2 separate regions of the Homo sapiens genome follow, and region 2 is linked to region 1. Evidence: fine-mapped expression QTL. A gene starts in region 1. The other region holds a variant in brackets. All regions are shown on one strand. Distances are from middle to middle.

Evidence for each region.
Region 2: its variant is fine-mapped to the expression of LINC02767 in sun-exposed skin (GTEx, PIP above 0.99). The same link has a PIP of 0.9 or more in esophagus muscle, unexposed skin and visceral fat.

Annotation. Positions count from the first base shown.
Region 1 is chr1:207,957,614-207,960,514 of GRCh38, forward strand. It overlaps LINC02767 (long intergenic non-protein coding RNA 2767), which reads left to right and starts at 1,378. Exons shown (of 3, transcript NR_167983.1): 1 at 1,378-1,462; 2 at 2,502-2,626. RefSeq lists enhancers at 849-1,350, 1,351-1,850.
Region 2 is chr1:207,961,640-207,964,540 of GRCh38, forward strand. All of the region lies in intron 2 of LINC02767 (long intergenic non-protein coding RNA 2767), which reads left to right. Among named protein-coding and RNA genes, the nearest start is that of LINC02767, 4.1 kb to the left of the region's middle. RefSeq lists enhancers at 1,626-1,725, 1,786-1,845, 2,532-2,901. The variant A/G (reference allele first, on the strand shown) is at 1,252.

The sequences.
Region 1 (2,901 bases):
GAGTGAAGGGACTTCCTGAGCAGAAATGGGCAAACTTCAGTCTTTTTACTGTGTCTTTGCAGTATTCTATAGATAATTTCCTTAATTTGTAAATTTAGTGACCATTAGCTAGTGATCATTTGATGGGCAGCGATTCTAACAGTATAAAGTCCACAATGTTCTATGTCCCTAGCCTGCCGTTTTTCAGCTGCATGTAAAAGGGGGTAGGATGAGATAATCGACCATTATAAAGATTTAACTATTTTATGCTGAAGCGGCCATATTTTCAAGGGATGACACCATCTTGCACACAACAATGAAGGTACTCGGCCATAGACTTGGAGTGAGACCATATATGGGGATGAGATTCTTCTAGATCCTAATACTGCTGTACTGGCCTGTGTGTACATGGGGTCCTTCAGCTGAGGCCTTGCAAGGCAAGCCAGCTGTGCCATGTTTGTAGATGGGGCAGAGGAAGCTAGAACAATGGAAAAGTAACCTATTTATGCTAGGTCCACCTATTGAAACGAGGTAGGAATGAGGCTAGGGTCCTTAACTTCCTTCAGGCATACTTTTCTAGCTACCTTCTGCCCTGTGTCTGGTACCTACATCCTTGATGATTGTTCTCTTTCATCCATTGTGGAGATATATATATGTATGAAAAGCAAAAAAAATAAATTGCTGGGCTGGCACTACCTCAAAGCTTCTGATCCAGGAGGCCTAGGAGGGGGCAGTTAAGATGCATTTCTTACTAGTTCCCAGGTGATGCTTCTGCTGCTAGTCTGGGCACCACACTTTGAGAATCACAGCTCTAGGGCTAGGGGTGCTAATCTTCATTCCAAATGGAAAGGAGGCTGCTAAGGAGTCCACTTAAGTAATTTTTCCTGCGATAAAGACTTGCTTCCTTGTCACTTGCTGTCAACACCCCTCCACACAGCAGCGACTGCCTGGCTTAATTCTTAAAGTAGAGGCCTCTCAATAGACAGGGTGGACACTTCTTCGCCTCCTGGCAGGAGAGAGAAAGAACGGACTTCAATCTTTGGTTGGCAGGGCCTGACTAGGCAGTCGGGCACAGAACCCTAGGGCTTTCCCACCCCTTTGCTTTCTCACTTGTAAAACGAATAAAGGTACTGGTCCTGCCAGCTTCACAGGTTGCTGTACATAGAGGAATGGTTGGTTGAAAGTGCCCTGCATAACGCAAGCTCTTTAGGACTCGCAAACAGCCTTAATCGCAGTAAGGGGGCACATCAGGGCTGTGAGAAGGCCCCCTTGAGGGCTCGGCACAGGTGATTCTGGGCTCTCTGTGCTTGCCAGCCTCCTAAAGTAGGTGCCCACTTTCAGAAGCTCTGCACGCCCCACCTGGGCGCCTCTGCTGGAGGTCTGCCTGGCCCGGGGCACCCGTGTGCGCGCGAGGATTTCTTTTGCAGAGAATGAAACCACCGTTCCTTTCCGTCCGTGGTCTACTCCGGGGTCCCCATCCCACGTAAGTGCTGTGGAACCCCGGGGTGATGAGCCCCGGGGGAAGCCAGCATCTCTTGCCCTCCAGTGCCGGCGCCCGGCAGAGCCCCGGGACTCCTAGTTTTTGCCGCCGCTGAGGACGCGGCGCGGGCTGCTGGCCGCGTCGCCGAGGGAGGGCCCGGACAGCCCTGCAGCGCGTCTCAGCGGAGCCCTGGGGGCCGCGCCGCTCCTCCAAACATGATTCAGAACCGCCCGTCAGCCTTGGCTCCAGCGCCTGGCGCGAGCGAACCGGGCTTGGCTGTCTCGGCCCCGTCTGAACCCTGCGGGCCGCGGGCCAGGGCGCGCCGGGATCCGCTGCGCCAGGACCCTGCAGACCCGGCCGCGGCCGGGCCGAGTGCCTCCCGCCGGGGCCTTACGCCCACGGTCCACGCTTGCAACACCAGGGCTGTACGGCGGGTCCGCAGCTGGGTCTGCGCCTGGGACTCGGGGCTCCCTGCGCTCCTCGTGCCGCACCCCTTGCCTTAACCCCAAGCGGACGGGTCCTGGGGCTTCACCGGCCAGGCCGGAGCCCCAGCCCCACAACTCCCCCCCTCCCACCGCACTGCCCCCTCTGCGCTGTGGCGGGAGTTGGGGACTGGGGCCGGAGAAAGGAGACGCGCCGGTCCTCAAGTCTCTTGAGCCATTTCGGTTCCGGGCGCGCCCCCCAGGGCTGCAGTCGCGCGAGGTTCCAGATAGTGCAGCTGTGTGGCGCCAGGCTTCCAGCGGGTTCTTGGTGGGGGTTCCCTCTCTGTGAGTCGGTGGGCAGAGATTTGCCTTGGAGGGTCGCACCTGGCTACAGAAGTATGAGACTTAGTTTCCGGGGAGCAGAGGGGCCTTGGGATAAGGAACTGAAGCTTCTGGGGAGTAGTTTGGAATTTTGGTTCCACCAATTATCAGCTGTCCAACCTGGAGAAATCCACTCCCCCTGTTTTCTTGGTTATAAATAACTATAGCTACCATTTGAGTGCTTATTATTTTCCATGTACTTTACGTATGTTATTTTTATCTTTCCAACGATTTTACAGGCCATATTCTGCTGATGGAGAAATGGGATCTCACCCAAGGAAAGTGACTTGCCAGGGTTACACCACTGGTAAGTGGAGACCTATGACTTGAACCTGTCTCTAACTCCAGAGACTGTACTTTCTCGGTAAGTGAGAACATTGACGCCATACAAAGAATTTTAAAACTGTAAGATGGTGACGGATACCATTCTCTTCTGACCTGTCCTCAGGCCACGTCCTGAAGTCCAGGCTGAAAGCATGACCTTTCTTTCTCCCTACCTCCTCAGCCACGCTTCCCTAGGCGGGTCAGAGTGCAAGAGGTAGGGTCTGGGACTGGGGACCCCTGGGTCAGCCTTGCACACCACCCCCACCTGGACCCTTCCCATCCTCATTTCTACCCCACACTGCTCAATGTCCTTGA
Region 2 (2,901 bases), 4.0 kb after region 1:
TTTCACAGGTTCCAGGGATTAACACCTGGACATCTTTGAGTCGGAGGGAGCATTTATCAAAAAACAAAAACCCTAGGGCCTCAAACAAAACATTTTTAAAAGAGAAATATAAAAGCTTCAACTCTTCTTCAAATAAGTAACATAGCAACTTTTTCTATAAATGTAACAAATTCTGAAAAAAAAAACCAAAAAAAACAAAGAAACAAACTTTCAGTTCCTAACTACACCCATAAAAAATCAGACTCCCTGGTGTCAGGGAAGAAGAAACAATGGGTGACAATAAATAGACTCCACATAAAAGGGAAGGGAAAGGCTCCCTAGGTTGAGAAGTTATGATATGTGCTTCACTGGGAATGTAGGTACAGCCTTTGGAAATGATTAGTTGTTAACAATTGTCCACAGCTCTTCAGCTGCTCTACTTTATAATCCTTTAGTGTAGTGACATCTAAAACATTTTTTAAATAAATCAATCAACTGTATTTTTTAGAAAAATTTTAGTTCACAGCAATATTGAGCAGAAAGTAGAGTTGCTTGTCCCTTCACCCTCCTCCCACTTAAAACATTTTTAAAGCATTAATAGAATTCTTGGCTCCTTATTTTCCCCCCAAAAGAAATTCCTACCTAAAAAATAAAAATCGTGCTGCTCTGGTTCAAGTGGACTCATGGAGTCCCTCAACCTCTGTAAATCCTACTGCATGGTTTAACACCTGTTTTGCAGTTACTTCTCTTGAGTGGAATAATGAGAATAACTCAAGTTAGAAAGTACCCTCCGGACCACAGAAGTAGGGAGACTGTCATGTTGGAAATTATTCTCCAGGCTTCAGAAGCAAGAATTGTCATAATATTCTCCCAGGAATTAGAAAAGAGCAGGCTCTTGTTCTGACGTAGAAGCATAGAGTCTTCTAGGCCATAAATCTGCTTATTTTAGTTACAATAGTGAAAGGGCCAGTGGGCAACACGGTAAAAAGTACATGGGCCCAGAAATTGGGGACTTGGATGGGGCAGCTGGGATGTAGGGGACATATTAATTAAGACCTAGTGTGGGCCTTTCGTATTCTGGGTCAGATAAGTGAACAAGCAGGTGAGGTTCTGTGTGGGCTACCCTGGAATACAGTGTTGCATAGGGTTGTGTGAGAGGTGCGGGGAACGCCTAGAAAACTTTGCAGGGAGAATGTTTTCTAAGCCAACACCTAGAAGACAAGCAAGAGTTTGCTGGGCAGAGAGTGAAGCTGGGCGCGGCTGGGATCATGG[A/G]GCCGGATGTGCACAGCCGGGACATGGGGAAGAGCTGCAGTGGAGAGTGGGGTATGGTGGAGAGCAGTCAGGGCCAGACGATGCTGGCGGGCCTGGAGGCCTTGGGAGCGCTGACTTTCTCCAAGAGCTGGGGGTGCCAGGACAGGGTCCCAAGCAGCGGCCCTACGTGGCCTGGTTTGCTCTTCACTGGCAAGCTCCATGGCCCTGGGCAATGTGCTGCTTCTGTTTTTCTTCTCATCGGTGCCTGGCTGAGCTCTGGAATCGTTTCCTGCTCTGAGCCTGAAACTTCAAGCAGTAAGAAGACGGTCCACAGCCCGGTTACTGGGGCTCTGCAAATGCGACGTTCCCAGTGGCCCTCTCCCAGGCTCCGGGCCTCCGGGTAGAGGAACTTCTGTCTGTAAAGGATGAAGGCGACCTTGCTCAGGCTGCAGCGGGATGGAGAAACGTGACCCAGCGGAGGGGCTTTCGGCTGCGAGGTGCGAGAGGCGACCCGAGGGGTGAAAGCAAGGCGAGTGCGGTCAGCGCACCGGGCTGGGCGGCCTCCCAGCCGGCCGGGGAATTCGTTCCCAGCTCCAGCCGCATCTCACCGCCTCTATCGCGCCTTTGGGGCCTCAGAGGGAGGCTGCATGGCCCGGAGGCCTGAAATCCGCCATTTGTTCCCTCCCGGGGCGGCAGAGCCACAGCTCACTGAAGGCTGCAGCCTCGGCAGCCGGAAGCGCTGGCCGGGCGCTTGGCCAGCGACCGCCTCGGGTCGGCCTCGGGTCTGCGCAGGCGCAGGCTCGGGAAGCCGGGCGCGGTGGTGTTTCTGCGGCCCGCGGCTGCCCTCTCGTGGCCGCAAGGCGCCATGGCACGGCCGCTTCCACGCAGCGGAGGTGCGCTGGCCGGAAGGCGGCGGGTCCGGCCAGCCAGGGAGACCAGCCAAGCGCTGTGTTTTTCCAGGTCCGCGCGGGCCAGGGGAACCCTGCGTGTTTGCTTGGTGGGAGTGGTTTACTGGGAAAGTAGACGGAAGGTACCCTGCAAATCGGCGTGCACTGTATTGTTTGGGAGTCAACAGCCTGGAAAGTAAATATCAGGTGAGGGCAGTGCTGGGAACCACCGCCTGCCCCCTCCCCTGGCCTTGGCCCTGACTTTGAGCGGGGCACCGCGGGCCAAACAGCTCGGCGGCCCAGGGGAGAGGGAGGAGGAGGAGGAGGCAGGCAGCGGGGGAGGTGTCAAGACTCAGAAATAGGAGCCAGCTAGGCCCAACATACGCCTGCCACCCCAGGGGCTGCAAACAGGGAATACCATCCCTTCTGCCCACCCCACGAAGACATCGTACACCCCGACGAGTCACCATTCCAGAAAGGCTGGCTTTCTGCAAGCGTGCGGGGGCGGTGAGAGTGGAGGGTGGCGGGGTTGCTCGGGGCCCACCCAAGCATAACTGTCTGAAGGGCACACCTCACAACGGAAGGTTTAGGCGAGAGGGGTGAACCCACACTCTGGCACGAGAATCATATGTTCTGTTCCACCCAGGGAGCCGCACTACATAGAGTTCTCTTTAAATTCATCTTCACTGGCTGGGTGTGGCTGAGTCTTCTCCTATCTCCTGATTCTCAGTTAACTTTTTGCGTCCCACCCTGTTCTTGTCTCAAGCAGTCGCTTTGGAATGTG